7 linked regions of the Homo sapiens genome follow. The protein of the gene in region 3 purifies or fractionates together with the protein of the main gene of each other region. This does not show direct contact. Each region holds a gene or a part of one and is shown on either strand. Other genes may lie near its edges. The genes, in order: RCL1, KLRG2, PTPN2, ITGA1, NUP50, DNAJC10 and HADHA.

What was found.
Region 1: the proteins of PTPN2 (region 3) and RCL1 purify together in Homo sapiens (affinity purification with mass spectrometry, with the first as the bait; one large-scale study listed by BioGRID). This does not show direct contact.
Region 2: the proteins of PTPN2 (region 3) and KLRG2 purify together in Homo sapiens (co-immunoprecipitation; one large-scale study listed by IntAct). This does not show direct contact.
Region 4: the proteins of PTPN2 (region 3) and ITGA1 purify together in Homo sapiens (co-immunoprecipitation; one study listed by IntAct). This does not show direct contact.
Region 5: the proteins of PTPN2 (region 3) and NUP50 purify together in Homo sapiens (affinity purification with mass spectrometry; 2 studies listed by BioGRID and IntAct, with this or other methods). This does not show direct contact.
Region 6: the proteins of PTPN2 (region 3) and DNAJC10 purify together in Homo sapiens (affinity purification with mass spectrometry, with the first as the bait; one large-scale study listed by BioGRID). This does not show direct contact.
Region 7: the proteins of PTPN2 (region 3) and HADHA purify together in Homo sapiens (affinity purification with mass spectrometry; one large-scale study listed by BioGRID and IntAct). This does not show direct contact.

Annotation. Positions count from the first base shown.
Region 1 is NC_000009.12:4,791,462-4,795,743, reverse strand, and holds the start of RCL1 (RNA 3'-terminal phosphate cyclase-like protein), read right to left. Parts: upstream 2,801-4,282; 5' UTR 2,653-2,800; coding exon 2,517-2,652; intron 1-2,516. UniProt on the Homo sapiens protein: As part of the small subunit (SSU) processome, it plays a role in 40S-ribosomal-subunit biogenesis in the early pre-rRNA processing steps at sites A0, A1 and A2 that are required for proper maturation of the 18S RNA.
Region 2 is NC_000007.14:139,456,174-139,459,673, forward strand, and holds part of KLRG2 (killer cell lectin-like receptor subfamily G member 2), read right to left. Parts: intron 1-3,500.
Region 3 is NC_000018.10:12,825,238-12,828,737, forward strand, and holds part of PTPN2 (tyrosine-protein phosphatase non-receptor type 2), read right to left. Parts: intron 708-3,500; coding exon 573-707; intron 1-572. UniProt on the Homo sapiens protein: Non-receptor type tyrosine-specific phosphatase that dephosphorylates receptor protein tyrosine kinases including INSR, EGFR, CSF1R, PDGFR.
Region 4 is NC_000005.10:52,916,916-52,920,415, reverse strand, and holds part of ITGA1 (integrin alpha-1 precursor), read right to left. Parts: intron 1,685-3,500; coding exon 1,518-1,684; intron 85-1,517; coding exon 1-84. UniProt on the Homo sapiens protein: Integrin alpha-1/beta-1 is a receptor for laminin and collagen. It recognizes the proline-hydroxylated sequence G-F-P-G-E-R in collagen. Involved in anchorage-dependent, negative regulation of EGF-stimulated cell growth.
Region 5 is NC_000022.11:45,177,425-45,180,924, reverse strand, and holds part of NUP50 (nuclear pore complex protein Nup50), read right to left. Parts: intron 2,688-3,500; coding exon 2,025-2,687; intron 1-2,024. UniProt on the Homo sapiens protein: Component of the nuclear pore complex that has a direct role in nuclear protein import. Actively displaces NLSs from importin-alpha, and facilitates disassembly of the importin-alpha:beta-cargo complex and importin recycling.
Region 6 is NC_000002.12:182,792,111-182,794,964, reverse strand, and holds the end of DNAJC10 (dnaJ homolog subfamily C member 10 isoform 1 precursor), read right to left. Parts: 3' UTR 501-2,854; downstream 1-500. UniProt on the Homo sapiens protein: Endoplasmic reticulum disulfide reductase involved both in the correct folding of proteins and degradation of misfolded proteins.
Region 7 is NC_000002.12:26,192,633-26,196,132, forward strand, and holds part of HADHA (trifunctional enzyme subunit alpha, mitochondrial precursor), read right to left. Parts: intron 2,601-3,500; coding exon 2,460-2,600; intron 2,007-2,459; coding exon 1,938-2,006; intron 1,141-1,937; coding exon 945-1,140; intron 1-944. UniProt on the Homo sapiens protein: Mitochondrial trifunctional enzyme catalyzes the last three of the four reactions of the mitochondrial beta-oxidation pathway.

The sequences.
Region 1 (4,282 bases), on a different chromosome or scaffold from region 3:
CCAAAGCCCACACCATGAGGGATGTTTTAAGCAAGCACCTTGAAGAGATGTGATTCTTGCATTAGAACTGAAGATTTTATTGGATATGCTCTGAGTTTTTTCCAACTCTGAGAATCTGAGTTAGGAAAAGTCAGAAAGGGACAGATGACGGGCAACATAGGCTTCCGGCTACATCTTCAATCAAGCTACCAAGGACTCCCTTGATTATGACCAGAAATCATGTGTCAGGGACTACATCTATTTATGCGTGCACGTATATGTATATACACTTACATGTATGTGTATACATATACACATATACATGTATATCTGCAAATGCATATCTATCTCTCTGTTCCCTCTGTAAGAAATTAAGCAGACAGGCTGGGCGCAGCGGCTCACACCTGTAATCCCAGCACTCTGGGAGGCCAAGGCAGGCGGATCACCTGAGGTCAGCAGTTTCATACAGCCTGGCCAACATGGTGAAACCCCATCTCTACTAAAAATACTCTACTAAAAATTAGCTGGGCATGGTGGCAGGCACCTGTAATCCCAGCTACGAGGGAGGCTGAGGCAGGAGAATTGCAGGAACCCAGGAGGCGGAGGTTGCAGTGAGCCGAGATCGCACCACGGCACTCCAGCCTGGGAGACAGAGTAAGACTCTGTCTCAAAAAAAAAGAAAGAAATTAAGCAGACAAACATCTACAAGGTTTCTGAGGCCCTGAAGCCAGCGCAAGGATGTACAAATAACTAGGAGTCTCTTTCTTCCCCTGGTATATGAACGGGGTAAGGCAAATAATGCTCTACAGTAATGTTCCCCATAAAATACCAGCACACCTGCCAAGCAGTTCTACCTCCCTCAGGTATCAGCGTCTGACACCCTTTCAAGAAAGTGCCAAGTGGCCAAGCCCTGTTCTTGGAAGAAACGGGAGCTCATATGTGTGAGATGCTTTGAAGAGATGCTCACATACAGTGGAGGGGGAGAAGGAGAAGCATACTTTGGAACATTAAATATTAAATTGGAGGCCACCTGTCAATAGAAAAACTCTAAATAGAACTAGATTCATTTTAGAGAACCCAGGTTTCCAGGCTATACTTCCATTTCTCTGGAAAAAAAAAAAAAAGTTATGCCTACTTTTATACAAAGTAGAAGTCCATCTTCTTACCATATCCAGCTAGTGGCAAGTTCTCTGAGCTAACCTGAGGGTAAAGTGGATGGAGAGCTGGCTGAGAATGCCACACAGCAATCAAGCAAACACTTTGCCCAAGGGTCAAACTAAGTGGAACACTTGTTGACGGAAAAGTCGTGGCATAAACCATTTGTGGTCTCTCCCTAACTTTCTCAGTGTTTTTGAGCAGTAGAGAGAGGACAGGAACCACCAACACAAGTTTTTCCTACCATCACTAGGTTTCTCACCACTGTACCTGGGATATTCTGCTTCTTTCCTTCCTAACCTATCTCCGTCAATAGCATGGCATCTTCTGCCCTTTATGTGCAGCCAATCACCACCCAAGAGAGGCAGAGATCTAACTATCCAAAAAATGCATTCAGACAGATAAAACAAGAGCCAGTGCAAAATGAAACACATCAGCGCCGCTCAGGAAGCTTCCAGGACCAACCACAAACACTCTTTTTCAATTTACAGACAGGTTTTTTCCTTTTTCACCTGACTACTGACTCGCCCAACTTGGGATAACCACCAGTCAGAAGCTTTTAAATGCATGTATCTCATGCCAGGGGGCCAGGTGTAAACCAAGGCCAGTTGAAAACCGGCGCCATTTAATGAGATGTGGGTTTAAATGGGCCTATTTCTTTTTAACCTACCATTGCAGAGCAAGAAGTGAGCTTGGAAGCCTGCAGTTTAGCGATTGTCACCGACCCCTTTTCTAAAGTCAAGGCAATTAGGCCCATGACTGTTAAAAGTCTATCTCAAAGCTCCTGTCCTGCGCACATCAATCACAGTCACGGCTGAAAACAAACACAGAATTTTAAAAATTTCTTTATCCACACCCAAGGACAAGTGTGAGGGCAGCCGAGAAATCATGGCGACAGGAACAGCCGGTGTCCAAGGGGGCAGCTGCTTCTGAGAACTGCTTTGAGACAGGGCAGAGAACCAACCCAAGGTACTTTTCTCTCCCAATGTCTCTCCCCCGGCTCATTCACCATATTTCGGTCCAACAAACTGTTTTTCTCCTTTGAGAGGTTTATGGCGAGGGCAAGAGGGGCCGAAGGGACGCGAAGGGGCGACGCCAGGGATTTGTTGCTACACGTAAAGCTGGAAAACGTGCAGCTGTTTACTACCAGCGCCCCGGAGACGCCGAGCGCAGCTTGCAGCTGAGCGCTCCCCTCGGGCCCCGACCCCGCCTCCCCCACTGTGCCTGCCCCTCCGGCTTTGGAGGCGACGCGCCACCTGCCCTCCCCGACGCGCTCGCCGGACGCCGAGCCGCCCAACCAACACCGCGCGGGCCCCCACGGCATCAGCTCGGTCTCCCCTCAGCCCCCGCGCCCACGCCGCGCGCCGCCCACACCAAGTTACCTCGGAGGCCCGGGTTGTCGTCTCTGGCCCGAATCTTTCGGATTTTGACGGGGCGCCCGCTCAGGGTAGACAGGACCAGACGTTGGCGCAAGAAGTTGCACCCTGCGTAGCTGAGGGAGTGCGCCTGAGTCGCCATGTGCGCGCTCTCCGAAGAGACGTGAGCAGCCCGAGAGCGGCGACTTCGGACAGACGCGGGACTCGTGACTCCGATGGTGGTGGTGGCGGCGACACCGACGGCGGCGGCTCGGGCTGCCTCCAGCAGCCCAGACGCGTCCACGTGGTTTGGAACAGGAAGACGGAGAGACTAGACACCGGGTCAGAGGGGAGCGGGGCGGAGCCAGTGGCCACCTCCCCGCCTCCCCGCCCGACCGGGGCGGCCCCCGCTTCGGGCCACGCCGCTATTGGCCCGCGCCGGATCAGGGCGGTGCCCGCGCCGCGCCTCCATTGGCTTCCGCTGAAGCTGGGCGGTGCCCAAGCCGCGCTGCCATTGGTCCGTAGTGGAGCTGGGCGGTGCCCGGGCCCTGGCAACAGCGCGCGGCTGGAGGGAACGCGGGAGGATGGCCAGGGAACCCCGGCGCGGGAGTTGCCAGTCGGGGCAGTCTCCTCTGTGTACCTCCTGGCGTGGTAGCAAGGGGAGATGGCGGACTGAGATTGATGCCTACGACGTGCCGGATTCTTAGCATTACTACTTACGGCAACTACTGGGGTGAAGATGCTATTATCTACCCCTCCTCTTTCTTACTAAGAGAGACAACAAGGGTTGGTGCACTCACCCTATCGCAGGGATGCCGCTCAGCGCACTGCCGGCGCAGTCCCGCAGCTCCATGCTGTAACCCTGCAAGGTAGAGCCATCCTGTCCTACTCATGGATAAAGGCTCGAGGAATATTGCAAAGCTGACAGTGGCAGCCTATACTGAGACCCGAATCCTCCCACAGCAGGCCGTTGCTTATTTTATTGAGACACCTCTTTGCCCCTTTCTCACGGGTCCCTTCGTTTATCGTCATTGCGTTTCATGGCAATTCAGGCCCTCCTACCTCGCATGCTTCAAGATAGATAGTTGTAATAACTTCACACACACACACGCGCGCAATGCTTTTTCCCTCTTTCCCGTCCTCCTCCAATCCTGCACAAGAAAATCTTCCCAAACGTTGGATTATTTCACTTCTCTACTCAAAAACCTTCCAAAATGTACAGTTAACTAACAAATGACTACACAAGTAGAAGTCCGATATCATAGTAATGTGGGTTTGTAGCCATTCCTGGACAACACTCACCAAACCATGAGTCCCAGAATGCACGGGGGTTCGCGGGGGGAAGGGGGGCGGGGTATGATAGTGTCTGAAAGCGGTGGGAGTTTAAGATTAAGGGATGTAGCTAGCCTTATGTAGACAACAGTGTGTTATAAAGTGGAGTGGAGTGGCATGCTCATGACTCACTGCAGCCTCAACTTCCCGAGTTCTAGTAATCCTCCAACCTCAGCCTCCCCATTAGCTGGAACTACAGGTGTGCACCACCATGCTCAGCTAATTTTTGTATTTTGTATAGACATGGGTTTTTGCCATGTTACCCAGGCTGGTCTCAAACTTCTAACCTCAAGCGATTGGCCCACCTTGGCCTCACAAGTGTGAGCCACCACTCCCAGCCTTTAATCCATTTTTCTTTGATTTTTGTAAATGGCAAGAGATAGAGATCTAGTTTCACTCTTTTGCATATGGATATCCAATTTTCTCAGCATCATTTATTGAAGAGACTGTCCTTTCCCCAG
Region 2 (3,500 bases), on a different chromosome or scaffold from region 3:
AAAGACAAGCCCTGGGAATTAGAGTGATGATTGTCCTGTTGCTGCCACCTCCTCCATCCTTCAGAACTGATTTAAAGGTGGCTTTTTTAACGGACACTGGGCTGACCCTCTCCAAGGTGAAATAGGTGCTCCTCCCTCCCCTTGGTTTCCACAACTTTCACAGAATAGAGCTGTCTCTTTTTTATTTTTATTTTTTTAATTTTTATTTTTGAGACGGAGTCTTGCTCAGCCACCTAGGCTGGAGTGCAGTGGCACAATCTCGGCTTACTGCAACCACCGTCTCCCGTGTTCAAGGAATTCTCCTGTCTCAGCCTCCCAAGTAGCTGGGATTACAGGCACCTGCCATGACGCCCAATTTAGTAGAGATGGGGTTTCACCATGTTGGCCAGGCTGGTCTTGAACTCCTGACCTCAGATGATTCACCCACCTCGGCCTCCCAAAGTGCTAGGATTACAGGTATAAGCCACTGCACCCAGCCTCTCTTTTTTATTTTTTAAGAGACAGGATCTCACTACGTTGTCCAGGCTGGCCTTGAACCTCTGGGCTCAAGCGATGCTCCCACCTCAGCCTCCGAAGTAGCTGGGACTGCTGGTGCGTGCCACCACTCATGTGCTGCCTTCTAATGGCTTGCCTCCTTGTCACTTTCCTGTATTAGTTGGTGAACCTGGTGCGGGCCAGGAGCTTGTCTTACTCAGCATCGCACTATGATAACCCAGTACACAGTAGGTCAACTCAGTGAAACTGCCTCCCCGCGCTCACTGCCAAAAATCAGCAGAGCCACAGTGAGACCAGGCCATCAGGCCACTGTGTATCCCAGAAGTGTCACGGAAAACCCATCTTCTGCCCCTCAAGGTTAGCACCAGTCAGTTAACAGCCCAGAGAGAAGTCAGGGGCAACTTCCCAGGCTGAAGGTTGCTAATCTTACCCTTCTTGAATCCTAAAGACCAGAGTGCATAGGAAAATGGAGAGTGGTGAGTGGACGGAACAGAGAATGTACACTGGGCAGCTGTTCCTTGGCTGGTGCTTCGGGGACACACTGGGGCCCAGGGTGGGGCTGGGCAGGGAAACTTGGAGAGGATGGGAGGGCCCCAGGCTGCTCTGAGGTGTGAGTCAGAGGGCTGAGCGGCCCAACACCGTCTTCCTGGGAGCACTCAGCTGCCTGTTTGGGAAGGCACACCAGGGCTCAGTGCCTCTTCCGGGGCTGAGATGGAGCCAGGCTACCCCATATGCAAATTCTGGCTCCATGACTTGTGAGCCACATGACCTTAGACAAGTTACCCAACCTTTCAGAGCCGCTGTGTGGTCGTCTGTAAAACGAAGATGCTTGTGATGAGGCTTGAGATACTAACATATAAAGCCACGGCCACCTAGTACACACTCATCCCATGTCCTCTCGCGTCTGACATGTGATGGGCAAAGCCTGTGACCTGCCTCCTACACACATGAGCCCCTTTGATGCTTACAGCAACCTCAAGAGGACCCTGTCCTTCTGTCAGAGCCCCAAGCTATCTGCCTCTCTCACCCTTCCCCTCTGGGCCTCCTGGTGACGGGAGCTGAAGGCCTCCCCCGAGCCCCAGCCCCGCCTAGACCCACCCACTCCATTCCATTCTTCTTTTCCTTGCGTTTGAGACTCCTGATCTCATTGTTAGCAAAAATGGTGGTGTAGGGAAGGCATTGTTCAGAGTTATAAATAAACTCTGGGAACTACTAAGTAATTTATGGCTAAAAGGACTGCTCTGTGCAAAAGATCCTGAGGCCTCCTTAACTGTGGATTCTCCAACTTTTCCACTAATATGGGGAGAGGGAATGTGATCCTGAGCAGAATGGACTGAAAATCTCATATTTTACGTCTTAAAATTATAGAAAATTGTTTCCTATGCCTTCATACATTTCTTTTTTAAAAATTGTGATAAAAGATTCACGGCCAGGCATGGCTGCTCACAGCTGTGGTCTTAGAACTGTGGGAGGCTGAGGAGGGCAGATCACTCAAGCTCAGGAGTTTGAGACCAGCCTGGGTAACATAGTGAGACCCTGTCTCTACAAAAAATACAAATATTAACCAGGTGTGGTGGCACGCTCCTGTACTCCCAGCTACTCAGGAGGCTGAGGCCGAAGGATGGCTTGACCCCGGGAGGTCGAGGCTGCACTGAGCCATGATTGCACCACTGCACTCCAGCCTGGGTGAGAGAGCAAGAGATCCTGTCTCAAAAAAAAAAAGAAAGAAAGAAAGAAAAAGTTTAATGACATAAAATTTACCATTTTAACCATGATAAGTGTACAGTTCAAGGGCATGAAGTATATCCACATTGTTGTAAAACCATCATCACCATCCATCTCCTGAACTTTTTCACCTCCCCAAACTGAAGCTGTCCTCATTAAACAACTCCCCATCCCCCGCTGCACTGGCAACAGCCATTCTACTCTCTATCTTCATCCATGTCTGTTTTAATATTAAAATGTTTCAAATTACTTTTCTTAATCCTAGGATGTAAATGTATTCAATGGTTTAATCTTTTTGAAATTAGCATCGGGCTCGAGTTCAGTGTGTGCTGTTAAGGTAGCTTCCTCCCTCCTCCACTCTGCAAAGCAAAGTTGTTATTAAACTAATGGTGAGCACTTACAACTTCCTACTTTTCACTAATCCTGAGCAAAACAGGCTTCTGGGAAGATGAGCCACGTCTATCCTGTACCTCTGGGCACCCTGGCCCTGGTGCGTTCCTGGGGTTTGTGCGCGCTGCTTCTGCGTGTGTGTCCTGTCCTCCCCACCCTGCCTCAGCACCTGCAGGAGCTTCCGGTCCTTGTCCAGAACTCAGGAAAATTCCAGAGTTCCACAATCATTATATTCCAGATTTTAACTGCCTAGATCTTGAATCTTAGCGTTGGTCTTTTTGCAGGGAAGGGGTTTACCCAGACTATGATATGTTTTCTGCAGATTTACTTATGTTTCAAATGATTGATGCTGTATGCATTTTTTTGTTAAATTCTTTATCTCAGGTTCTGTTTCCAATTTGGATAGTTAAACCCACCTCCCCCCATTGGCAACAAGGAGTTCTAAGCTCATCTGAGGTGAACCTGTCTGATGTGAGGCCCGTTTTACTGGCTTCCTGTTGGCATTTGCTGTGCTCAATCTGTCTGTCTCAGGACAAAATGCTATGTTCATCAGTCTTAAGCGATGGGATTCCATAAGTAAGTAATGGGATGAACTATGTCCCTGCAACAATATGATCCCCGCCCTGCTTGGCTCCTGGCCCTAACTCTAGGCACTCTAGAGACCACCTTTGGTCCCACCTACATTCCTACAGGCCTTCAATTTGCAGATACAACCAGTCTGAGTCGTTTGGTACAGGAGCCTGGGGTGCTTTCTTTGCACAGCCCATTCCCATCTCAACGCCAACACCTCAGGGCCCAGCCCAGGCGCTGAGCAGAAACTGATCCCTACTGAGCTCCTCTTGCCCTCACAGGCTACTGGTGCCCTGGCATATTCCCCCATTCACAGCATA
Region 3 (3,500 bases):
AATAGGGACAAATTTTTGTGTTGTGAATCACTTAACAATAGCTTTGTAAGTTATTTTCTTGACTATTTTGCTATTCTTGGCAGTCACAGGTCCTGGGAGCTATTGCTTGCTGGGCATTTACTAAGGTCAGGTGCTCTGCATACACATCCTCATTTGACCTTCAGGACAGCCCCGGAGGGAAGGCGTGGTAACCTCCATTTTACAGATGAGGAAGGGATCAGTGAGGGTGGGGAACAAGTCTAAAGTACAGCTCTACTAAGCAGCAGAGCTGGATCTGAATCCAGGTTTGCCTGATTCTAAAGCCCTCTCTATTAATCCTCATGTATTTCTATTAATTAATTTTTAATCCCCAAATATCAAACTGAACTTTGAAATTCTTAGTTTCTACTGTTTCTTCAGAGTCCTCAGAAAGCTACTAGATGCAGACACACAATCTAAAAACACGTGATTATGGCTAGATACTATAGGAATTATCCAAATGCATGTGCTTATCAAACTTCAAATCTAATAATAAAGAATAATTCTTTAAACCATCATATAAAGTCCACAATTTCGGGCAAGAAAGGTCTTACATTGATATTTTCTAATTGTAGTAGATGTACTGTATAATACGACTTCACATCTTCTGACAAGAGCTTCACACTGAATCCTGTTTCTTTAAACAGCATCTCTTGGTCATCTGTTGGCCAGTACTGTGCACATTTAACCTAAATTTAGAAATATGTATATGATTTTTTTTTAGTTTATAGACATCATGAAACCATAAAGTTAAAAAATGAAAACAAACCAGATATATACATGCTATATTTTTTCAAGTACCCAAAACTAAGAAGTCACTACTATATTCTACGCTTAATGTATTTTAGTAAGATTGAAATTTTATAGCCGGGCGCGGTGACTCACGCCTGTAATCCCAACAATTTGGGAGGCTGAGGCGGGAGGATCACCTGAGATCAGGAGTTCGAGACCAACCTGGCTAATATGGTGAAACCCTGTCTCTACTAAAAATACAAAAACTAGCTAGGCGCGATGGCGGGCGCCTGTAATCCCAGCTACTTGTGAGAGTGAGGCAGGAGAATCGCTTGAACCCAGGAGGTGGAGGTTGCAGTGAGCCAAGATCATTCCACTGCACTCCAGTCTGGGTGACAGAGCAAGACTCCATCTCGGGGAGCAGGGCGGGTAGAGATTGAAATTTTATAAAGCATTTTTTATGTGTGTGCAGTCATCACTGTAAGCCAGTTTTAGAACATTTCTCTCAGACTCAGAAATCCCCTTGTGTCCTATTCCCACTCCAAGCCACAGGCAAGCACTGATCCATTTTCTGTCTCCATAGGCTTTTCTTTTCTTTTGAGCTGGAGTCTTGCTCTGTCGCCCAGGCTGGAATGCAGTGGCGTGATGTTGGCTCACTGCAACCTCTGCCTCCTGGGTTCAAGCAATTCTCCTGCCTCAGCCTTCTGAGCAGCTGGGATTACAGGCGTCTGCCACCACACCCAGCTAATTTTTGTATTTTTAGTAGAGACAGGGTTTTGCCATGTTGGCCAGGCTGGTCTTGAACTCCTGACCTCAAGTGAACCACCAACCTCAGCCTCCCAAAGTGCTGGGATTACAGGCGTGAGCCACCATGTCCGGTCTTATAAGGTATTTTTTAAGTGTTCCTGTAACTTATAAACTAAAAAAGCCATAGGTATCATATTCATAAAATAAAAATAAATTTATCATTCTTAAAGCATGATTACCTATATTTTAACGTCATGGGACATTCACTTTATGTTTCTAAAATTATCAAACTCTTGCAATAATTTTATCTTCAAAATAAATGTTGCTGGCCAAGCGCGGTGGCTCACGCCTGTAATCCCAGCACTTTGGGAGGCTGAGGCAGGCGGATCATGAGGTCAGGAGATCGAGACCATCCTGGCTAACACAGTGAAACCCCGTCTCTACTAAAAATACAACAAATTAGCCGGGTGTGGTGGTGGACGCCTGTAGCCTCAGCTATTTGGGAGGCTGAGGCAGAAGAATGGCGTGAACCTGGGAGGCGGAGCTTGCAGTGAGTCGAGATAGCAGCACTGCACTCCAGCCTGGGCGACAGAGCGAGACTCCGTCTCAAAAAAAAAAAAAAATAATAATAATAATAATGCCTTAAGAGGAAAATAAATAATTTTTTTTTTTTTTAAGAGACAGTGTCTTGCTCTGTAGTAGCCCAGGCTGGAGTGCACTGGGGTGAACTTGGCTCACTTCAGCCTCAATCTTCTGGGCTCAAGCAATCCCCCAACCCCAGCTGGGACTCCAGGTGCGTGCCACCACACCTGGCTACTTTTTGTATTTTTTGTAGAGGCAGGGTCTCACTTTGTTGTCGAGGCTGGTTTTGAATTCCTGGGCTCAAGTGACCCTCCTGCCTCAGCCTCCCAAAGTGCTGGGATTATAGGTGTAAGCCCTCCAACCTGGCCAGAAAAAAAAAAATTTTTTTTAAGTAAAATAGAAATAAAGAGATAAACAGGATTAAAGAGAACGTGACAAATAAAAAAGGTAGGCAAAGAAAATCCAACATACGTATAATAGGAAGACCCAAAGAAGAACATTAAAGCAAGCAAGGGAGCAGAACAAATACTAAGGACTGTAATTCAACAAATATTTCTTTAACAAAAAGTATTTAAAAAATTTTAAAAAGTACTTGAAGTCAAACTCTCAAGAACACATCATGTACCTGTAAAAACTGACCCAGAATGGCCAATTACTAAGACATATTTTTGGTAAAACTAATAATATCTGAAGAAAAAGAAAAAAAGAATTCTTTGGGTAGTGCAGATAAAAAGAACAAGAGACTTATAAAGGAAATAAGATGTCCATTAGACTTTGGTGGAATACCAGAAGGAAATGGAAAAAAAAAGTTGTTCAAAGAATAGCACATGAGCCAAGGATTTTATATCCCGCCAAACTGACTTTCAGATATTAAGACAGCAGATGAACCATCACTGACATGTAAAAAAATCAGACTATAATGCTCACAAGTCCCTCCTTAGGAGCCACTAGAGAATGAGCTTTAGTCAGAATGACTGGAGAGACATCAGCAAAGACTGTTGATGAATATTAAATAATGCTTGCTTGTAGAACTAAGAGTCTACAAGAGATGTAAGGGAGAGACTACAGTTTGTAAAGTACAACTCAGAAACACCAGGAAGAGAATGAAAAAAATATTAAAAATTGTAAACCATTTTCAGTAATTATTTTGGTAGCAGATGATATCATGATTATGGTTATATATTGTATATGATATGGGAAGAAGGAAATGAGTCATTACAAGATAGTTTACATCTCTCATATCTTTGAGAACCAGGATTCTTGGTATGAAAAAGGAAATAGCAGATGTAAGATGGAAGGGGCTAAGCAACACTTATAGTTCCAAATTTGAACTGGGAATATCATTATGAACTCTTGAAGTATGTTATCTTAACATATGCATATTGTTCCTTAGCTTTTGTCCACTGAAAAGCCCTAAAAAC
Region 4 (3,500 bases), on a different chromosome or scaffold from region 3:
TTTGAACCTTTCTCTCTTGAGTTCCAGAGAAAAAACTTCGTGATATTTGTCTTAGTGAATCTAGGGTGACACGGTACTGCAAATCTACAAAAATTTTAAAAAATAATTGATGGAAATGTTTATTTGAAGTGATTCTCATATTGTACAGATTATTAAATTAGCATTATAGAAAAATCTCTTTGGCAATCAATCAAAAAAGATTCTATTGTTCAGCATATCCACACTGTTATAACAATGATATTAGCAGTCATGAAGATAACCTTGAGGAACTCTATAGAACTGGTCTCTGAGTTCACTGTGCTTTCAGTGTCTAATTACATTTATTGTTTATAATTCTTATACACACATGCACACCTGCCTATCATCTAATTGCCAGGCCACCACTGTATTTATTATATTTTCACTTAAAACATTCTTTTTAAGTTTAGAAATGTTGGAACCCTGCTTAGAATATTGATTATGTTATATTTCAATAGGGACAAAAATATACTTTAGTTATTTATTTACAAATATATACATTTTAATCTATTTATATATAAAATGACATTATCTCAGCTTATGGTCAAACCACTATTAAGGTTCAATAAAATAAGCATACCACAATAAAGAAAATAAATGAAATCTTACACTGTATATGAAGGCTACAATATTCCTTATTTGATCACTTAATTACTTTGCAAAAATTAAATAAGACTGAAATAAAGTTACATATAAAACTCAAAATCATTATTTTATGTTCTTATACCTCATTGATCTTTCTAGTCAGGAGGCTATTTCAGAGCATATACATGCACATATGGAACAAATCAAGAAAAACAGATTTTAAGGATTAATGGCTTTTCTCATTCTGCTTGTATTTGGTTACAGAGTAAATTTCTCTTCTTTAGCCAATGGCCTTTATAGCTTTGATTCGAGCATATTTCAACATCATTAAAAAGCTGCCTTAGAAAGTGGAGAACGGAGGGAGGAAGAGGAAGCACAGGCTGACCTGATGCACCTGAGAACACACACACAGAACAAGTCTGACTCTCGGAAACTAGGGTCACCTCAATGGAACAAAGGATCTCGGAAATGTGGGAATGGTAAAGTATTAGGGTTCTCTGCAATATCAGTCTTTCCCAAGAGGGGGCAAGAGAAGGGAGAGAAGAGTCATGGTAGAAACCTACAGGAAGGAAAACTGGGCCCATTTGTAGCTCAATTTCTAAACTCTACCTCTGAATCGGTATTTTTTTCTTAAGCGTCTCATTGTACATAGCAAGTAGGAGAGCCAGACAGAAACTATGGAGTGTTGAGGGCACTGCATACAAACATGTAATTTCTGCTCCAGAATTGACTGGGTTCCATAACCTATTCCTTTTGCAACAGAATTTTTTTTCAAGGTTCTGCATCTTCACTGGGGCAAATATGACGTGCAGCTCACCATGTGGGGAAAATACAATATCCTACTGGACTTCATCATGCTAGAGCAAATATATTGTCCTCTACCCAAAAGTACTTGCTATAATTATTTTGCTTACCAGCTTCATAAATCGTGTCTTCTTTAGACTTTAATTTCACATCAAAACACACTGTAGCATTTATGCATACTGTTTCCTTTCCCTCCATATGGCAGTTTTTCTTTTGAATATTCACTTTATTTGGCTCAAAATTCATGGTCACTTTAACTACGGCCACATCTCGGGACCTACAAACAAAAACAATGGGATTACTCACACATTTTTACATTTAATGAATGTCATCAACTTGGGAGTGCAAAGTGAGTGCATGGAAGAGGGTTCTGCTTCATGTATAATACAGCGCTCAGGACTCCATTTCTTTAATTAATCATTGTTACAGAAGAGATTATATCTGATGTTCTAAGACATGTAGGTTATATTTGGAAACCATTTGGGGCTTTTGGTTCAAACACCAAAGATCTAGTTTTTCCTGTGATGGAAAAGAGATGGAATCAAGTGTCCAGGTGAAACCCCAGAATCAACTGTATTTTGGGGATTTACGAGTTTGTTCCAAATTTGAAAGAAGTCTAAAGGTCCCTGAACAGCCCGTAGACCCCTGCTATCTCTTGTCTGGACTGTAATATTGTCTGTCCTTGTGAGTTCAGCTCTTCCTCTATTTCTAGGAAGGAAAAGCAAAATAACATTTGAGGCATTGTGCTAGACATGGATGCTATTTCATTTAATTCTTAAGGTTAATTATAAGCAACATCATTTTTTTGTTTTACGTTTGATAACTGGGGCTCTGAAAAGTTAAATATTTTATGCCAGGTCAAAAGCTATTAAGAGGAAAAACCTGGGATTTTAAACTCAGTCGTTTTAACTCGAAAGCCCAGTAATGTCTACTAATCCAAAATGAGATCAGAGTAAGATCTCAGACATGGAGAATATATGGATACTGAGGTCATTGTCTTAGATCCAAGCCGGAACAATTACTGCACATTTTTACCTGGTTTCTGCCTTGTGGCCAGAGCTAGCCCCTTATAACTGTGTATGTTGTGAATAATGAGGTCACTACTTATGCTTTTGCATTAAAAAAAGGTGGTTTTCTTTTTTCTGTTAAAACAATGGACTCATAGAAAATATAAACATCATAGAAATGCATAAAGAAAACACAAATAACTTGTTATACTACCACTCAGCAATAATCATCATTAACATTTAGTACACTCAGTGGTTTTTTCTTTACAGAAGAAAACATGCATACACGTACACACATGCATACATACATATATACAAAAGCACATCTTCATATGTATGCCTACAAATTTTTAAAACATTATATTACAATGAACAGCTTTCCAATATTTACATTTTTCTGAGAACATTATTTTTAATGGGATTTATTATTTTTAATGGAAGCAGACTATACCAGCATATGCACATACCATAATCTATGCATTCAATCCCATCTCATTGGATATTTAGCTTAATTTAAAAAAAAGGTTTCTGAGTATAGTGGTAAATTTAACATTATTAAAAGATGGTATTACATACAGTGCTGTGATGACACCTTTAATTGTACTTCTAGATTGTATCTTTACATTTTTAGGAAGTTAAATCCTTGGTAAAAAGTAGGAACATTGGAATGCTTTTAAACACTTATTGATAAAGACCTTCGAATGAGTTTTAGCCAGTTTACCCTTTCATCAGCAATGAATGAACATGCCTAGTTTCCTGCTTAGTAATATGGATTCTCCAGGCATGAAGCTGCCTCGACCATTGTCCACCCCACACATCCTCTCTGCCCCAGCCAGATCTTTCTTGGGAGTCAGTCCAGGTCTCATGACAAGACTCTCACTATTTGCTTCCAAACGTTTTTCCTATCATCTGTCACTTGTATCCACTCTCACTTCTTGTTAGGCATTGTGAATCTTAGTCTTCGTGTCCCAGTATATCGGTTTGGTCCATTCTGCTGTCAGTGGAGCCTGGACTATGATAGGGAAATGACTATCATTTTGGGCCATCAATGCCTTGATTTGGGGCAGGAGAGGCCATAAATAAGTT
Region 5 (3,500 bases), on a different chromosome or scaffold from region 3:
ACCTTCACCCCTGAATATTCCTGTGACTACATCTACAAGTATCAGTAATAGCCAAAGATAGAAAAATACTTTTTTTTTTTTTAACAGGGGACAAGTTGTCAGAAAAATCATTCCAAAGCCCCAGTGTAAGTAATTTAAGCTTTGTCTGAATTGCCACATGGGTCACTGCTCTGGTACCAAAGGTATCCCCACTAACGGGGTCTCCCAAACACGGGAGACCTAGGCCATCATTTAAACACATGTATTAGGCTGTGTACAGTGGCTCACGCCTGTAATCCCAGCACGCTGCAGGGCCAAGGCAGGAAGATCGCTTGAGCCCAGGAGTTCAACACCAGTCTGGTCAACATGGTGAGACGCCCCCCATCTCTACAAAAAATAAAAAAGTTAACCAGGTGTGGCGGTACGTGCCTGTGGACCCAGCTACTTGGCAGACTGAAGTGGGAGGATTGCTTCACCCCAGGAGGTAGAGGCTGTAGTGAGCTATGATTGCGTCACTGCACTACTAGCCTGGGTGACAGAACGAGACCCTGTCTCAAAAAAATAAAAAACCCCACATATATAAAAGGATCCTCTTAAAGAGAACGGCAGTTGCATAAAAACTCACCAAAAAGCAATTCTAAGAAAAACAACTGTGATGCTCAGATGATTAGGTCACACGACTGTCCGTCTTATCCCTCCAATCTCCCGAGTCTTCTGATGCTTAAACTGTGATAACCAAGGGACAAGGAACAGGCGCTCACTGAGGGGCATCCTGCCTCCACTGGGACTCGATTCAAATCCCCAGTGCCTGCCTCAGGAAAGACTCCCCATTTGTTTTATTTATGGGAGGCAGAGAAGAAAGAAAAGGGGAGACCCTTATTTCACCCTGTGCCCAGAGGGCCCGTGCCTGAGGATATACTTGAAAGCAGGGCAAGGCAAAACAGTAATGGAAGTCTAGACTCCTGATAGAAAACCGTAATATTTCAGAGGCAAATTGGCAAATGCAGTTTTCTTCCTCAAGGATCAGTATGTCCATATGTCTGAGAAGTACACTTTTTCTTTTGTTGAGGCAAGGTCTGTGCTGCCCAGGCTGGAGTGCAGTGATGCAACCACGGCTCATGGCAACCTTGAACTTCTGAGCTCGAGATACTCCCACCTCAGCCTCTAGAGTAGCTGTGACTACAGGCGCCCACCACCTGGCCTGGCTAATTTTTAAAAATTTTTGTAGAGATGGGGTCTTGCTATGTTGCCCAGGCTGGTCTCAAACTCCTGGCCTCAGGTGAGCCTTCCACTTTGGCCTCCCGAAGTGCTGGGATTACAGGTGTGGGCCACCTCACCTGGCCTCACTTTCAACTGCTTAGAAGTAGGTGTCTTCACAGACATCACCTGTTCACAACCACCATGTGAGGAAGCAGCATCATGACATCACCCCACTTTTTAAGCTAACAACAGAGGTCTGGAGGGCCCAGACCTTGTGCCTTGTCTGGGGCACTGACGATACACACAGGAAACATCACTTAGACACCACTGCCACGCTCTGGAAAGGAGGCGCCTCCAAACCCACAGGAGGAAAACAATGTTGATTTCTTCTCTATGGCTATGAAAAGTCTACATTTGTAATGTATAGTCAAGTACTGTTTTGCCACATGACTTTATTTACAGTGAGATCTCCTAAGTACAAATCAATTCAGGGGACATTCATGATGAACTTGATGAACTTTTCCAAAAACACAATTTTCAAAAAACGTCTTTAATTCACTTGTTTTTTATATGCTAAACCATGTGTGTTTGAGACTTTTCAAAGTCAGGTGTTTTCAAATTCATTTTATTTTTAATCCTTATAAACAACCCTACAAAAGTCTTACTCTTTTATAAAGCAGGAATCTGAAACTCAGAGAAGCTGATTAGCTCTGTCTGAGATCACACATGGAGAGAACAACGTCTCAATGTGAATCCAGACTCATATTTGGAATCAAAGTCTCTGGGTTTCCCAAGAAACAAGAATCTTATGCAAACCTCGACTCAACGACAAAGCTGGTACTTACCTTTGCATTCACCACTGTCACCTTCTGCTTGGCCCTCCAATGGTTTAGTGGGAAATGGTGAAGAGACTGGTTTACTCTGGGTAGTATCTTTGCCAAATAAACTGGAGTTTCCAGGGGAGAAAGAAAATCCAGTCAGGGGGACAGAGCTTAATGAGCCCAAAACAGAGCTATCAACTTTCTTGCCGAAATTAAATGAGGCACTTGTCGCTCCTAGTGATGATGGGTCCGTTTTCTTTTCAGATGCCACCTCCATCTTCTTGTCAGGTGTATCTTCAGTTTTGTTGCCATGAAACAAAAACGTTGACTCTTGCTGTAATTTTGTTGAGCCAAAAAGGGAAGGAGACTGTGTTTCAGCTGCCACTTTGTTAGATTCACTTTCAGAATTCCTGCCACTGTTCCCGTGTTGCTGTTCAATGTTTGCTAAATATTTCTCATAGTCTTTAAAGATAGGTGTCAGATCACAGAGGGGGTTTGTATTCACGTGCTTCACTATCCAATCCCGCACGGAGCAGTTCAAGGCGGCCAACTGCTTGTGATAGGCATTTCCGACACAAGCTTTACTGGAAGCAAGGCCAGAGGAGGAGGGCTGCTGACTGTCCCCATTAGTTTTGGGATTTGAAACTTTATCAACCAAGGTGGTAGGGCCATTTGCAGCAAGAGAACCTATAGAAAGTTAATAATTGAACCATTTATTTAGCCTAATTTGATTAAATCATCTAGATTTTTTTGCCACTCTGCCTTCATACTTTCTGCTTTTACTGTATCTCCCCCCACACCAAGACAGTCTTGCTCTGTCACCCAGGCTGGAGTGCCGTGGCACGATCTTGGCTCACTGCAACCTCTGCCTCCCAGGTTCAAGCGATTCTCCTGCCTCAACCTCCCGAGTAGGTGGGATTACGGGCACCCGCCACCACACCCGGCTAATTTTTGTATTTTAGTAGAGATGGGGTTTCGTCATGTTGGCCAGGCTGGTCTTGAACTCCTGACCTCATGATCTGCCCGCCTCGGACTCCCAAAGTGCTGGGATTACAAGCGTGAGCCACTGCGCCCGACCTACTGTGCCCTATTTTTGTGACCGCTCAAAAAGTATGTGTTCAAGGAGTAGAATTTAGTAACCAGTTATCAGTAAAGCCGATGAATAAAGATCAAGTCAAAGTTTATACAAGAACACTAACCACCATATGCTTGCTCTACACATTTTAAAAATAATCTTTTCCTTCAAAAGGACGCCTATCTGAGATGTGATCGGGCGCGTCGAGGGTGGTGTGGCAGTAGACAAAAGGATGCCTATTTCAAACAGCACTGTTAGAACAGCAGGTCAGCATTAACACTTAATCCCCAAGGTTGTTGGGATGAACAGTATTAAAGTACAGTCGCCCCTCTGTACCTGCAGGTTCTACACCTGTGAAATGCAGTCCTCAGCCAGGTGTGGTGGCTCACGCATGTAATCCCAACACTTTGGGAGGCTGAGGTGGG
Region 6 (2,854 bases), on a different chromosome or scaffold from region 3:
ACCGGATGGCCCTTCCATACTCTAGAGCTGCTGCTGCCAGTTTAACATCTATACTGGTTAATTTCATACATTCAAACACCTTACTTCATTTTCTTATCCATCTGCTGTAGCAATGTCACAAACTGGAAACCCCAGGCTGGATATGGTATTGTTTGACCCTCATATATTTAAATGTTTTAAGTAGTTGTGAACATTTGAAATATTTTACATAAAAACCCGGATTGGGGTAAATTCTGGGTAAACTGGAACATCTGGGTCTCTTTCTTCATGACAATACTCTTTTGGAGCAGAGAAACTACTGCCTTTTTAAAATAGTGCATGCACTAACTACCGTCATGTACTTTACCTACAAAACACCCTTAACTATGTGAGTTTGCAATGCCTGACTACAGCCTCACTTCACTCTGGAAGATAAGGACATTCGTACTTCTACCCGTCCTTAACCTGGGTCAGTGTATATAATTATTTTTATGTTGTTAAGCTGAAAATTGGTGACACAATTTGCATTTTTGTGACAAGTTTATTTCACTTCTACATGTTATAAAAAAACATAGCTCACTGCAAAGACAAACAGTAGAATCAAATCTAGAATGACATTTCTTACTCTGTAAGTTTAATGTGGTCATCATGCAAAGGAGAGAATCTGAATGGATTATTTCTATCCTTCATCTATTGTTTCCTATGTACTCAAATTTTTCTGAGGTCCGCAAATACGCATCTGACTTATTGCCTCATTCTTTCTCCTCAGAGACTTCTTTCCCAAGCTCTCTGCTCTCTCGCCCCATCTGCCCCAGGTGATGTTTAGGCCTCCTACTTAGCTGCTGTCCTGTGGATTTGTTCACTGCTCTCTTGGGTTGGAGTCACTGTTTCTTGGATCCCCATGCATTGTTGTTTATGCCTTCATTTGGAGGAGGTGTTTCATCACCTAACCACCTAAAAATATATTTATCATCTGCCTGCTACTTGTTAGTCTGGGTAGGTATGAATAGAATCCTAGGTTAAAAATATTTTCCTCTCAGAATTTGGAAGGCTTTGCTCCAAAGTCTTCTAGAATACTTCAAGCTCCAATTACTTTCTAATTGTTATTTTTTTGTAGGTAGTGTGTGTGTGTGTGTGTGTGTGTGTGTGTGTGTGTGTGTGTGTGATGTGTTTCCTCTCTGGAAAATTTTAGGATTGCTAAATTAAATAAGCAAGAGGACCTTGGCCTGAGGCTGTCTCCAGACTTTGAGTTCCCATGTAATAAATTGCAACCTAATTTAGTACTTAAATAAACTGAAACCTAATTTAGGATTATATAGATATATTTTTGTAACAGATAGGTCACAGCCAATTGCATGCTGCCAACTTGCCTTATTTGGAGCAGACCATGTCCAAATAAGGCAAATGCCTATCTGTAACCAATCAAGCTATTTCTGTACTTAATTTTTGTTTTCTGTCTATGAATGTTCACTGCATACCTCGCAAAGCAGAGCTCTCTGAATGTCTTCTGGTTCTCAGTGCTGCCTGATGGATGAATTGTTCTTCACTCAAATAAAATGTTAAATATATTTTGCTGAAAGTTTCTCTTTTACCAGGATCTTCTTTTTGGTTCTGGAATTTCACAATTTCACTGTGAGTAGAAGTTGAAGTCCTTACAAAAGTTAGAAAGCTAAAGTCCTTACAAGTGACCTGCAAAGCCCTCTATGATCTGGCTCCCCACTTTCTCTCTCCCTCTAACTTCATCTTCTCTCCTGCTAGCTCACTCCATTCCAGCCACATGAGCCTCCCTGCTGTTCCTTGAACCTGCCAAGCATGCCTTGGAGCCTGTCCTCTGGCCTTTCTCTCTGTTCATATGCTCTACCCTCAGCCCATTTAGTGGCTACATTTTTTCCACCTCCTTCAATGGCATCTTCTCCAAGAGACCTGCCCTGTCCACCCTATTTAATACCGAAACTCTCCTGCTGCTGCCCCCACACTCCTAATCCCTCATACCCTGGTCTACCTTTTTCTTTATTTCACAGCACATCTTCTAACATACTTCTAACATACTTAACATTTGCTTATATTAATTGTTTATTGTCTATCTCCCCACTGCGAGAATAGAATCTTCATGAGGTCAATACATTTAATACACTATCTTAAATGCATAGAACAAAGCCTAGCACATTGTAAGTACTCAAATAAATGTTTGCTGAGTGACATGGGGCTCATGTTGAGCTCATGTAACTTCCTCATAAATGATTTCTATTCAGGAAGGCCAAAGGAAAGATGACAAGGAGGATTACGATGTTCCATTAGCGGAAGAATTGAGTCTAACTTCACACACTTCTCTTGCAGATAAACTGGTTTGAGGTTATAGGCCTCTAATTTATCAAGAAAGAAACTGGCATGCATTTAGATGGACTGCTTAAGCCAATAGGTCTGTAATCTGTGGGGAGCAAAGAGGTGTTCTTTCAAACAATGAGAGGTTAAACAATACATTTATCAGATGGGACTTTTGTGAACATTGAGGGACAAAACAGGAAGCTGAAAAGGAAACCAATCAATTCTACCAGGGTTTATAACAGCTGTAATGAAAAGCCTTGGGGAAGGAAAGAAATTGGAATATATCCTCTTCATTATTTTTTGTACCTCAAAATGTTATCCTGTTCCACAACCCTCAAAACCCCTCACAAAGATAACCAACTACTGTAATCCTCATTTAATAAACATAGACTTCAGATAGTGCATTTAATTCTAATGAAACTTGTGCAAGATTATAGCATGGAGATAAAAAAATAATTGTTCACTGATGGTATGCAAGCATTTGTGAGGATTACTTATAAATTGACTTGAGCATCTCTTTTTTCTTTAATTTACTCTTTGAACATGTATT
Region 7 (3,500 bases), on a different chromosome or scaffold from region 3:
AAAATTAGCTGGGCGAAGCAGGAGGATCGCTTGAACCCGGGAGGTGGAGACGAGATTATGCCACTGCACTCCAGCCTGGGCAACAGTGTGAGACTCTGTCTCAAAAAAAAACAAAAAACAAACAAAAAAGACCCTGACCTGAGAATTCTTGTCTCTGTTGGTCTATTATAAAGCTCTGGCCTCTTCTGAATTCCTGAATTTGTATGTCTAGCTAACCCTAGCAAATTAGTCTTTGTCAGAAGAGTGGGCAGAGAAGGAAAGAAGATCTTGTGACCCGGAGCTTGGGCATCTGTGTACATGGATGAGAAAGGCCACCTGGGTGAGTTTTAACATCCCCATATGCAGCACCGGGTCCTAGAACACCCAGGTTGTAATGCTGATTTTGCTGTTTTGCCAAGACAGAAAGTCACTTCTCTGTGGGCCTCAACTGTATACTGTGTATGGTGAGCTTATACATTCTCCTCACAGGTGGCCAGACAGCATGGTAAAGCCCGGATGCAGAGCTTGCTTCTGCACTATTGCAGATTTCATCTCTGGGGGATAAAAATGCTTGTCCATCTGGCATAACTTGGACCAGGTGATGCTAGAGCCCCAGAAGGGTAGAACTCTGCCTTTTGTCCATAATCTATAGTCCTAGCCCTTAGAAGGTTCACATGACATCTTTTTTTTTTTTTTTTTTTGAGAAGGGGCCTCGCCATGTTGCCCAGGCTGGCCTCACACTTCTGGGCTCAAGCGATCCTCCCACCTCAGCCTCCTAAGCAGCTAAGACCATAAGTGGTTGCTACCGCACCTGACTCATAAAATCATTTTTGAAATCGCCAGTGATAAGGGCTCTGTGTTTAGAAAACTTTCTTCCACGAGGGCTTCTGTAACTCTTTGGTCTCAGGAACTGCTTAGAACTTTGTAACTAATGGTGCTAGTTATGTTTCCTTGAGGCTACTCACCTAGGAAGCCCTTGGACACCATCTGTGTCAGCAGTTCTGGGTTTCCACCTCCAAACCGCTCCCCAAAGACTTTGCCCAGATCTTCCGCCACATGTTTCGCTACATCCACACCAACTTCATCCACCAGTGTGGCGGCACCCACAGGAAAGCCAAAGCTTGTGGTCAGGGAATCCAGCTTCTTCGGGTCAACTCCTTCCTGAACAGGAAGCGATGCAGGGACCTCAGGGGAAGGGCAGCCCAAATCCCCCCAAAGGGCTCCCTGTACTGGCTCCAAACACTGCCTTGTGTAAAACCCACTTCTGAGTGTCACCTGACCAGGCCCAGGACTGGTGCTATTTCATTCAGGGAAGCACAAAGAAGTTTGGGGCCACAAGTGGAAAGTCTGAGCCTTCTCTAATCTACAGCACTTTAAGGACGTTTAGAGATGACTAAATTCTTCATTTTCTTCTTGTTTGCATTTCTGAATCTCAATAATAAGGAGATTGCATGACAGACGGCTGAGTGTGTCATGACCAACAGAAGAAACATCATCAAAGAGGAGCACTCAGAGCCCTGTGATCCCCAAGTCTGGGTAAGTGCCCAGCGAGGAGGATCCCTCTCCTTTCCTGCCAGAATGACCTCGATGGCTACTGGAGAGGTCTGTGTGCTGTGGAAACAGATGCAGCACCAGTTGAACCAAGCGGGCCCTGTTCTGGATGGTCCCTGCCTCAGAGAGGTGCAGAAACAGCATAGAAGACATGCTGGGGGGTGGGGTGCCTTTAGCTTGCTGGAACAGTGAGGAGGCTGTGGGGCAGAGGGAAAGCTCTGCCCCTTTCAGTGCAGTATAAGCCCAACTTCCGACTGCTGTGCAGAGAGAGGGCACCAGGGACCTTCCTAGACAAGAGCAGGAGTTGGTGTATCAGAAGGAAGCTTGGTCCTTATCTTGACATCATGAGTTTTAGAGTGACTGAAGGAGTGGAAGATGCCGCAAACACTCTGGAGAGCAATACCAACCTGGAGGATTCGGATGACTTCAGACATCATGGGCGCAAGACACCTGGTAGTATAGAAGCCAGGTCCATCCTGCCAAGGAAGAGAACATGAGCTCCCTGGCCCTGCTGCTGGGACTGAGTCTGAAACACTCTACCTTTCCCAGGGTCACTTCAAAGTCATTTGAAAGTCACTGTAAAACTTAAGGTGACTTAAAATCTCAATCAGAATCCTTAAAAATGAAATTGCAGGGGAAGCCGTACTAGGGGTAGCCTGGCTTGAATCAAACAGTACAGCAGATAGTTTCATGGTCACCTTCAAGGTCTGGGATGGCTGGGAGAACCCTGCCACATCCTAGATACTCCCCACTCCCACCTTGACTCAGTGGGACAGTCAATACCACCGTCCATCCTGGAGACAACCCAGGGGAAAATCATATCAAAGTCTGGTCATTTGCCCCAGAATATTTATAAACAAGCCTGGAGGTAAAAGGAGTCTTATTAGAACTTTTCAAAAACTCTGCAGCTCTGTTATACAGCCCCTTACCTTAACCACAATGATGACCTTCCCCTGCTTGAGACCAACTGCTACAGCTGAAGCACTGGTGTCTTTGGAAGTTTTCTCGGTCGTGATAATCTCCAGCAGCTGCATCTTGTCCACGGGAGAGAAGTAGTGCATGCCAATCACCTGGCAAGGGGAACCAAAAGCCAACAGATCGGAGAATGCGGGTGAGGAACCTGAGAGCATTCCTTCTCTGCTAGGAAAACACTAGAAAGAAAGGTGGCTGTGATATAGGAATACTGCTTGACATAGCTGAGTGGTTTGGTTCCATGGGTCTTTGATAAAAGTTTAGTATGTTTAGGGAGAGCACATTGGAATCCTCCTCTTCCATTTGCTTCTAAGGTTTTTCACTACAGACATCTGATCCTCCCAACAATCAGTGCCAAAACCACAGCTCGAGGCCAAACTAGATTTATTGGGGAACGACGGATGAAGGTTCCACTTATATTAATGATACTGATGGTTTAGATAAGAGGATCCAGTTTTTTTGGGCGGGGGTGGGGCAGGCAGAAGAATTAATGTGTTGGGCTGTCAGAGAAGTATTTGCATTTTACACAGATGGGTCTCACCACCAGGATACTAGGTTTAACTAACACTCCTCAACAGTCAGATGCACTTAAGACTCATTAAACCAGCAGTTCTCCAAGTGTAGTACCCGGACCCAACAAGCACTGTCATCACCTGGGAGCGTTAGGCCTGCACATTCTCAGGCCTAGCCCAGCCCTACTGAATCAGAAACTCCATGGGTGGGGCCCAGATTTGTTTTAATAATCCCTCCTGGTGATTCTGATGCGTGCTAAGGTTTCAGAGAAACCCCTCATTGAGCTAACAGTTACATAGTCTTCCCAACAGAACTGTGGTGAAAGAAGTCTAATTCATTAATTTATAGTTTTGCTTTCTCCCTCTCACTTTAGCTATAAGGTACAACAAGTGATATCTGTAATTTTTGGCTGCTCATTATCTACCTGCTCTTCAATACATTTACCACTTATTCCTTACATTTAATCCATTACAACCCTATGAACT